Linked DNA regions of Homo sapiens: region 1 is reported to be linked to region 2. Evidence: microRNA targets listed by miRTarBase, many of them from high-throughput screens and not tested one by one. Region 2 holds a microRNA gene; the other region holds the end of a gene's coding sequence.
Evidence for each region. The annotated mature microRNA hsa-miR-4757-5p reads AGGCCUCUGUGACGUCACGGUGU and lies in region 2 at 2,596-2,618, shown strand. An mRNA with a match to its seed (bases 2 to 7 or 8) in the 3' UTR can be bound and repressed. Matches are read on the target gene's strand: a 7mer-m8 pairs with bases 2 to 8, a 7mer-A1 pairs with bases 2 to 7 and ends in A, and an 8mer does both.

Region 1 (5,000 bases), not on the chromosome of region 2:
GCCCGGTGCTGGGTGGAGCAAGCTGGGCTGGGGTCCAGGGGTCTGGGGCCACCCTCTGCTGGCCGAGGCCAGACCTGGACATGCAGGAGCTACAGCCCTGGGCATCCTGGGAGGGGACTTGTCCGGGGAGCTGGAGTGCAGGGGGGATGGTGGGGCTCATACACTGCCCTCCCCCAGCCCCCCCGGCACCCATGCAGAGCATCTCCAGCGGCATCAGGGAGACAGTGAGCCCCCAGGACATCGTGCAGGACGCCATCCACAACTTCTCCCCCGCCTACCAGCACTACACGCAGCAGGCCACGCACGAGGCGCCCAGGCCCGGCACCCACCCCAGCGGCGGCTCCGGCGGGAGCAGGAAGAGCCGGAGCCTGGAGAAGCGGATGCTGATCCCCTCGGAGGACCTGTAGGGGGGCCTGGGCTGCCAGTGCTGTAGGGACCCAGGCTGCCCAGGCCTCTGGGGAAGAACAGGGTCCCCCCACCCACCAACTCCTGCCAAAGGTGGGGCCTCTCCTGAGAGCCCACCTGTGAGGCCCTCGGAGCCCACTTCCCATCCTCCCTCCAGCCAGGGGGTCAGGGCACCTGATGGCCCTGGCAGGCACCCAGGTGGGCCCGCCACCGCAGGAGAGGGCACCTGAGCCAATCGGAAGAGCCTGGGGACCCCCTGGGATCACCCAGCCATCAGCCCCAGGAGCCACTGTGGGGCGGAGAGTGAGTGTGGCTGCGGGGCCTTGGCTGCACGGACCCCATGGGAGCTGTGAGTGGGTCAGACTCCCTGGTTCAGGAGACAGACAGCGGACGGATCCCAGGCTGGGCAGCTGGAGGGAGGGGCGCCGGGGCGCTGGGCAGCCGGGCTCTGACACAGTCAGCAGCTCCGGGCGCCGCAGGCCGGCGGGGTCCACACAGGCTGGCCGGGGCTGGGCCTCCTTGGAGCCTGCTACGGCCCTCGTGGGCACGTGGAGAAGGGCCCACGTGTCTCCACACGCCAGCCACAGGGGAGCCCTGGCCAGGCGCCCAGCCAGGGGAGCGTGTGCCTGGGATGGGTCACAGAACCAGCGGGCACCTGTGAGGCTGGCCAGCACCGTGGGGCTGTGGGAATCGCTCTTATTTATATTTAAACACCTTGGATTTTCTACCGGGTCTTGGCTTCTGTTCCCGCAGGGCATGAGCCTGAGGAGCAGGACGCGGTGGGGGTCACAGGAGGCTGCTGCTCAGAGTCTGCATGCGGGAAAGGGGTCCCACCTGTCTGGGGTGGGCAGCCTCGTGGTCCAGGGCAGTGCAGGGCAGAGCCTGGGCTGTGCGATCACAGCCACTGCCTTTCTCCTGGGAGCCTCCACTTCCTCCAAAACGGGCCTTGTGCCAGCCCCACCCGCGGCGAGCGGACAAGGCCACGAAGGCAGGGCCCTGAGTACCTGGGCGGGGGGGACACTCCCAGGGGGCACAGAGGGGGCTCCCACCTGGGCACCTGCCTCCTGCCCTTCTCTTCTTCCTCCACGTGCCAGGTGGGGCCCTGGGTTTGAGGAGCCTCGGACGCGTGCCCTGCCCGCAGGAAGCTGGAGGCGTGCAAGTGGCCTCGGAAATCGCGGCCGCAAGAACAGTAGCCGCCCAGGGACTAAGGGGGCTTCTGGGAGGACACACGGCTGGCCCAGGGCGAGGGGTGTCACTGCAGGGCGCCCCCCAGGCCCAGGGCCCGTCAGGGGACAGTACGGTGACCCGGCCTGCAGGTGGCAGTCAGTTCTGTGTGTCTGGGGCCCGCAGCACAGGTTGGGTGGGGGCTGGGGCAGGGGCAGCAGAAGTGGGCAAGGCCTGGGGGGCTCAGGCACTGGGCGTGGAGAGCAGACAGGAAGCTCCAGTGGGCACCACCCCGGGACCGCGGCTCCCACCCGTGCTGCCCCCCACCCATGGCCACGGTCACCAGGAACAGCGGGACCTGGGGTCTCCGAGGGACTCAGCAGGGCGGGCACAGACCAGTGGAGTCCGGGCTAGAGAGGGCCAGCTCCCAGCCTCTTGCTTCCTGGGCTGAGGACATGGGGATCCAAGGCCAGTGGGTCTGCAGGGCCCAGCCCGGCTGCCTGATAAGATAGGCTGAGCTCCTCCCTGCACGGCTGCAAAGACGCCCACCTGTCTTATTGGATCCCCACAGGAATAGACCCACCAGGCGGCCCCCGTGTCTCACTCTGTCAGCAGGTCCCCAGGGACCTGCTGCCGAGGGGCAGTTTCTGGAGGCTGGGGGCACTGGCTGGGCTCTAGGCCTGCTCTGCCCTTGCCGTGGGGAAGGCCACCCCGATAGGGGTCAAGTTGCTCAAATCTGCGTTTGGAGGGTGTGTGGCCGAGGGCTCCCTTTCTGGAGACCCAGACACCGCCTGGGCTCCGGGCGGCAGAGGCTGAGGTGTCAGGGGCTGAGCCCCTATGTCAGCAACACCTCAGGCCTGCACTTTAGGACAGGGGAGAAGTCAGTTTCCGCCAAATGCCCCCTCAGACCAGCCGAGGACTGTGCCAGGAAACTGACATGCTCAACGCTCAAGCCAGCTGGGACAGCGACCGAGCCCAGAGAGACGGAGCAAGTTGCCTGAGGTCACAGAGCAGGGACTTGGACACCAGGCAGCCGGCTCCACAGAGGCCCTCTCTCCTCCCTGCCTCCTGACCCTCAGACGCCTCCGCCCCACGGGTGAGGCTGCTTCTGCTTCTTTCCAACACGACTCGAAGGAAAGCCCTGAGGGCCGAGCCCGCTCTGCGTGGACGGAAGGCAGCGTGGGGCGGTCCAGGCCGGGGCTCAACCTGCCTCGAGGGGGAGCGTGGGCGCATGTGAGCGGGAGGGACGGAGACTAGCGTGGTTCCAGTGTCGTCATCGCTGCTAAAAAAGGGGTTTCCCGGTGACAGGCCCCGACAGAGGAGCAGGCCATGAGGCAGGCAGGAGCCGCGTATCTGGGCCCAGCGCACCCGCCAAGCTCTCTAGCCTCTCCTGGCCTCAGTATCCTTCTCTGGGAGATGGTCCAGCTGAAAATCCCCAGCATCCACAAGAAACGGTGGAAGCCCTGGGGGCCCTGGCCTGGCCCGGGTGCAGGCTGCATGGCCGGGCGGGGCGGTGTCTCCTTTCACAGCTTCCCCGTCTGTCCGCAGCCTCCAGGAGCCCCACACAGGGCTGGGGCTCTGTGCCCCCAACTCACACCCGTCGGCTCCCCCAGGAGGAGCAGGCTGGGCCCAGAGCCGCAGGGTGGGCTGCAGGGAGGTCTGACTTAGCTGGGGAAAGTGCCATCCCTGCCATTGCTAGTGACAAGCTCGGGCTGCTGTGGCCCCAGCACAGATTCAACACTCACTGCGCTATGTGCCAGCTGTTGCACACTCACCTCCACACCCAACTCACAGGAAGCAAGGCTGGGAAGGAGGGAACTGGCCCCAGGCCACACAGATGCTGCGAGTTGGGATTATGATCGGGTGCAGTGGCTCACACCTGTAATTCCAGCACTTGGGGAGGCCAAGGCGAGTGGATTGCTTGAGCCCAGGAGTCTGAGACCAGCCTGGGCAACATGGTGAAACCCCATCTCTACAAAAAAAAAATACAAAAATTAGCTGGGCGTGGTGGTGCGTGCCGGCGGTCCCAGCTACTCAGGAGGCTGAGATGGGAGGATTGCTTGAGCCTGGGAGGTCGAGGCTGCAGTGAACTGTGATCACGCCCCTGCACTCCAGCTTGGGTGACAAAGCAAGATACTGTCTCAAAAAACTCGAGTTGGGATTTCACCCTGCGTGGTCCAGCACTGAACAGCGTTCACACCTCGGTCAGCTCAGCCCCAAAAACGGGGAAGGCCGGGCGGGGTGGGGACGGCATGCGGGCAGGCCCGTGGCTTTTCGGAGGAGTCCACGGGCTTCCGGCCACTGTGCAGGGGCGCTTTGCTCTCTGCTCCCAGACAGACCCTGTCTTGCTCACAGCTTCCTGCAGGCTCCTCTGAGAGTCCAGCAAAGCTGGGCGAGATGTCTCCCAGGGAAGGGGAACACTGACAGCCGTGCTGCTCTCTGCTCCTTCCACTGGAAGGGAGAGGCTGCATGGACAGGGGGCTCCGGGTGGGGCAGATGGGGACACTCAGGACTGCGGCCTGACCCTCAGAGACTGAGCCCAGGACGTGGTCACCTGACCAGCACCTCCCCCGTGGCTGTCCCAGCCTCACGGTCACGGCCCAGCAGTCCGGGAAAGCCACTTACACGTAGTGCCCGGATCCTGACCCCGGTGAGGGACAGGCAGGGTCCCCTGGGATTGGGGGGGGGGTGTGGTTCTTGGCCCAAGAAAGCCCCAGCTGAAAGCACCAGCTACGCAACGAAAGGGTCTGAAACCAGAAAATTCTTTATTGCAAAGGTACAAAAGCAGTCACAGCAGCAGGACGCACGGCAATAAATTAGGTGGTGGCCGCAGGGACGGGGCAGGGCGGCGGCGGCCAGACACGGGCCCACATGTGATCTGTTTTCAATAATTTATATCATGATAAAAAGCAGCACAAAAAATAAATAATGAAATGGAACTGCCAAGTAGCACAGAAGCCAGGGTGAGGCGGTGTGGCGGCGTGGCGGCATAGGGGGCCGGGGTCCCCACGCCCTGGAAACGCAAAGACCTGGATCTCTTTGGGAAGCCGGAGGCACGGAGACAGAAAACAAACCCACGTGACAAAGAGTCCCTCGTCTTTTTCTTAAATAAAAAAATCCATATATTAAATCATGACAATGAAATTTCAACAATCTGAAAAGAAAAGCAGAACACACCGTGCTTCCCCGGCCCAGCTCTGGGCGGTGACAGCGGCTCCGTCCACCCTGGGGACCAGGGAGTCCCTTCTCCAGCAAAGCACTGCAGGCCAAGGGCAGGTAGAAGCCCACGGCCCACAAGACGTGGACACCAAGAACCCCAAGACGGGACAGAACCGGCCACCCGCTGCGGCCTGTCCTGCGGGGCCCAGCTGCCTGGTACAGTCCGTGGGGAGATGAAGGGGGACGGCGGGCAGCCCGGGCCTCCGCTTTGC
Region 2 (5,173 bases):
TCTGGACCCAGGTTAATTAAGAAGTGGACCAAATGCCCAAGCAAATTTCAATATTTAAGGCAAAACCCAAATTCTCTGGAAGTTCATTTTCCCCCTCTGGTTGTCAGGAAGCTAAAGAGTCTAGCCATTCCTTCCCCATCTCCACTGGCTTTCTTCCATGCCCCCTATAAAGTTTATCATCTCATGCAACTGTCTACCTACAGGATCCAAGTGGTACCCACTCCTGCAAATGATAGAAAGAAATCCACCCCTTCCCTTGTCATGACAAAAACTCCTTATCTTATCTCACTAGCAAAAAAAGTTGAAACCAAACATTTAAAATGTATTAATTACGCTTTATACATCCCCAGAGACAGCTGTGCTGATGAGAGCCAACTCAGTGTTTGGAAAAGGGAAACAAAAACTTTCAACTCATTCATCCCTCCATCCCATTTTGGGGGGTTAATCCTTTCATATTCTAATCTCTGGAGCTGGAACTAGACTTAGCCAGGAAAAATGACCAAAAAAAATGGCAGCAAATTGCCAGGACTGGGTGACTGGGTGAGAGGACCATTCCTGCAGAAGTCCACATAAAGAACATTGTGTGGCCACTTTTTCTTTAGACTAGGATGCTCTAACACAAGTCAAAGAAAACAAATGGGTCAGGCATGGTGCCTCACGCCTGTAATCCCAGCACTTTGGGAGGCCAAGGTGGGAGGATCACTTGAGACCAGGAGTTCAAGACCAGTCTAAGCAACATAGCAAGAGCTCGTCTCTACACAAAAAAAGTAGAAAAAATTACCAGACGTGGTGGCACACACCTGTAGCCTTGCTACTCAGGAGGCTGAGGTGGGAGGACTGCTTGAGTCGGGGAGGTTGAGGATGCAATGAGTCCTGATCGCACCGCTGCAATCCAGCCTAGGCAACTGAGGGAGAACTTGTTTCAATCAATCAATCATAAGAAAACACAAATCCACAAGGAAGCTTTCACTCTGCAAGCCTGTGTTTAAGCACTTCCCTATCTTTGCAGTCACACTTGCCACATACGTACATAGGCTCCTTCCCCAGCTCCACACCTCAGTCGCCATAGGTTGTTTTTTAACTCCCTGGGTTCCACAAACGTGTGGTGAGTAGCGCTCTGACATAGGGCCATGACACATCATCCCAACCAAACATAACAATTTGTGAACTGATTAATCCATTGCTCCCTACGTCATTGAAAAAAGGCTTTTTGCCGGGGGTTTCAAGAAGTCCACCAGTTCAGTGATATTCTTCCTCTCTCATTTCATTTCAGGATGCCTCTGTTATAATAAAGATGGGGGTGGTATCTCCTGGGAATACAGTAGGTTGGGAGGCAGGCTACGTCAAAATGCTGAGAGGCATTTCTAAGCATCATCATCATCAACATTTACAAGGCCTTCATACATGCCAAAGTTGTTCTACAACACATTAGGGTAGTTTTTGGTTCAAGCAGTGAATACATTATTGGCAAAATGTGTATTACTTTTAACTCTACACAAAGTGAATGAGGTAGGTAGGAAAAGCCCTACCCCCATTATAGGAAGAAAACTGAGGCTAGTGAAGCACAGGGACTTCCCCAAAACTTGTGCTTGTCAGAAAAACCTAGAGCTGGGTCTTCTGGCCCTTCCCCTCAATGAAAGCACAGCTTCGAATTCTTTCTCTGCCACTGACATGAGATTTGTCTCCAACCTAGCATCTCAAGTCCGTAATGAATTTTTCATCTGAAACATATGCCAACTGGGCCCAACTACCAACTGGGCTCTAGAGACGGCCCAGGAAGTCGGGATGAACGGGTGGAGTGGGACACCAGGGCGTTCCACCGGGCTGAAGACCGTCTGAGAGCTCTACCTCAGAGAGGCTGCCCAAAAGAGCTGGGACCGCAGCGAACTTTCTGGCCTTGGGTAGGACCCGCCGCGCCACCCTCGCCAGCTCAGATCCCAGGGGCCTCTGTAGGACCGCGGCGCTGGACTGGGCACTCCAAGTCAAGGGCTCCAGCCCGCATTAGCCAAGCGCCACCCACTTTCTCGTCTGCATTTTCTGCCCACACATACGCCAACGGCTGGATGCGCCCGCCGGGCCAGTGTGCCCCTGAGTTTGTGATCCCCAAAAGCAAAACACTGAACTCCGCGACGATTTCCACGCACCGCCGTCAGCTTCCGGACTCCGGCACCAGCAGCACTGGCCTGCGAGTTCCTTTTGCGCCTGCGCGTGGCGCTTGCGCAGTGGGAGAGGAGGGCGGGGCCGCAGTGGGCGCGGCCATAGTGGGCGCAGAAGTGGGTGGGATGAGTACGCCGCGGCAACTGCTGCCCTGAAACCCCGCGGGCAGGGAGACCACTCTAAACCACTGATTCAAGAAGAGGACGCTGCAGGGCACCGCCCTTCACTCAGGACAGCTGCCAACGCTTCGGGTCTGCGGATCGTGTTAGTGGAGACGAACCGATTCGTGGCGCCTGCCTGGGCCGATTCGCGGGGCGGGGCGGGGCGGGGCTGAGAGGTGTGGATATGTTAGCCCGAGGCGGGGCCCATCTGTGACGTCACGAAGTTACGTAATGGAATGCCTCTGTGGACCTCATTCAAGCCTTGTGTTCCAGCCCGAGGCCTCTGTGACGTCACGGTGTCTGCGGGAGGAGACCATGACGTCACAGAGGCTTCGCGCTCTGAGAGGTGGGACGGGACTCTTTTGAGCCGGCTATGGGGACACCAAGATTCTAGGGGATTTAGGATATCAGGTCCTCAGGTTCTGGGAGCTGAGGTCACGTCAGGGAGTCCCAGAGCATCACATTGCGTCCCTCCCCACAATGTGAGCAGTGAATTCCGCGGCAAGGAAGTACGCGGGAAAACATTTTTTAGTGGGTCCCTAACCCCTAACTACACTCTGGAAATAGGGGGTAGAACCTGAAACACTCTCTCCCAGGAAGAAGCTCCTGCAAGCTGTTCTTTTCCCTGGAAGCACCTGATATCTTACCGGAGACAGCATCTGGCAGTTCCGGGCTGTGCCCAGGGTCTCTGGCACCTTCCGCCCTCCCTGCCCAAGAGGCTGTCCTAGGCCAGATAGCTTCCCCAGCCGTACACAAAAACTTCAGGCCTAGCAGCTTTGAGAAGGGCCCCAGCTGAACTCCACCTGGCCAGCACCATCGGCCTCTTTTTCTCCTGAAAAATAGCCCCAGCAACGCTGAGCGCCACACAGTCACTGGGACCAGCGAAGCTTATTGTGATGGGGGTCTGGAGAGGAGACAAGAGCTGGGACTTTCTAGAGATGCATTGGGGGAAAAATTGGGGCAGGCAAGGAAACCCACCCAACATTTCTGACCCTCTCAATTGCACTTTTTGTGCAACCCACACTGAGTATGAGCAGGAAACTGGGGCACTAGTTTCCAACCACATCAACCAACCACATCACCTGGGAATTGTAGCCTGGATAGGGTCGGATGGCCCACAGGCCCAGCCGGCCTTTCCACCTGTAGTTACTGTTTCTGCACAGTCTATGAATCACTAGAACAAGCTGCAGGGAGACGTGATCTCTGAGTCCACCGGGATAACAGCAAACATCAGTAGAGCAAATAGGGGCATTCTGAGAGGGCCAGGGAGTTGCTGCGCATCATCCTGTCCCACCCTCCATTCCCCATCCCCAATTTAAAATTCTGCACTGGAAATCTGTTATTTTGAGGATGCACACTTGATACTGACATTCAGTTGCAGACCTTGGACTGGGTGGGTTTTCACAGTGCTGGAGGTGGGGTGACCCAAAAAGGATTAACGTGGCTGGCAAACCTCCCCATTTCACCGCATTTGTAGCTTCCTGAGGCCCCGGGAACTGCAGAGGCTCGATCTTCAGGGAGGTGGAATGATGTGTTCTGGGAGGTGGAGGGATGTCAGGGGCTAGGGAAGAGCAGCCATAGACAACCCCAAGGATAGCATCCCAGAAAGAGCCAAGGGACTAGGAAGGGCACCCTGTGTGTGTGTGTGTTCACCCATGCACTCTGGTTGTTTTGGAGCAACCATGGCCCGCAGCCTCCTGGGGCTTCATAAAGAAACCAAGGAAGATTCTGCAGTTGACCCTAGTACAAGCTATGGTCAGGCACAAACCACACCACAACCTGCGTGCGCCGCTTGGGCGCAGACCGTCTACACCACCCGCAAACCTACTGGCTAGCCCCACTTCCACGCACTCAGAGGCCCCAGTTCTCAGGAATGGGGGCATAATCCTGGGCCGCGCGCGACCTTGTGAACTGCTTGGAAGAAGGATTGGGATAGTGCCCAACTAATGAAGATCCCTCAGACCAGACCAGACTCAGCAGCGCCCTGCCCCTCATCCACAGTGGGTCCTGGGGCCAGTCAAGATTTTGGGACCAAACACATAGATGCTTGGTGGTTTCGCGAGGTTGCGGGCAAGACCCCTTGAGGTGCCAAGTCCTGGGCCGCCCCTCCAGGGCTGGCCAGCAGGGGGCAGCGTGGCTCTGAGCGTGGAGGCCAGGGCTGGTCCGCGCCGGCAGGGCCAGCCTCCAGTGCCCAGTTGGGTTCCCGGGCCTCGAAGTTCTAGCCCGCACAGGACTCAGGAGCGTTCCCGGAGGAGGTGGGGATGGGGTGGTGAAAGCCCAGAGCGTTTTAACTTCTGCATCCCCTGCCGCTTTCTCAGCCAGCAGGGCCCGGCTTGAGGCTGGGATTTTTGGTGCCTGCAGCAGGGAAGCTTATAGTCCAGTTGTCATCCGCGGCCGCCGCGCTCCGGGCGCTGAAGCTGGAGAGGCCATCCTGCGCTTGGGAAAGGCCGCGGGCGCCACCGCCTGCGCGGTCCCGCGGTCAGGGCGCTGGAGCTGGGGGGAGCCCCGCCTTGCCCCAAGGAGAAGAGCCCCGGCGGCCTGGCTTCTAACTGTGGGAAAACTAGACACCCCAGGGAAGGTTCAGCTTATGGAAGGCGGACTCGAATTTTTCCTCCTAAGCGTCCCGGGCCTCCCAGGGCGCCCGCCCCCACCATTCCTGACAAGGCTTTAAAATTGTAGGGAATCTTCGCGGGTGCAGAGCCTCGATCCTAGGAGGGGACAAGTCCCAAGCAGAGAATTGTGTCTGAGGGACCCTAAGGGAGGGAGTGATGTTGGTTTGGGGTTCCGGGGAGGCAGCGGTCATTGTGTATTTGCACCCGAGTGTTGAGACCCGGGGAACGGGAAATATTACAGCT

Region 1: the mRNA of TMEM184A is a reported target of hsa-miR-4757-5p. Seed matches in the 3' UTR shown: 7mer-m8 at 2,613-2,619 and 7mer-A1 at 3,469-3,475.

The regions. Positions count from the first base shown.
Region 1 is chr7:1,542,359-1,547,358 of GRCh38, reverse strand. It overlaps TMEM184A (transmembrane protein 184A), which reads left to right. Exons shown (of 9, transcript NM_001097620.2): 9 at 178-5,000. The coding sequence ends at 407. MAFK (MAF bZIP transcription factor K) reads right to left here. Exons shown (of 3, transcript NM_002360.4): 3 at 4,316-5,000. Among named protein-coding and RNA genes, the nearest start is that of TMEM184A, 11 kb to the left of the region's middle. RefSeq lists an enhancer at 2,790-2,939.
Region 2 is chr2:19,345,844-19,351,016 of GRCh38, forward strand. MIR4757 (microRNA 4757) reads left to right here and starts at 2,586; the gene lies at 2,586-2,662. It also overlaps a transcript of OSR1 not described here. RefSeq lists enhancers at 1,684-1,743, 1,894-2,163, 2,214-2,343, 4,667-4,736.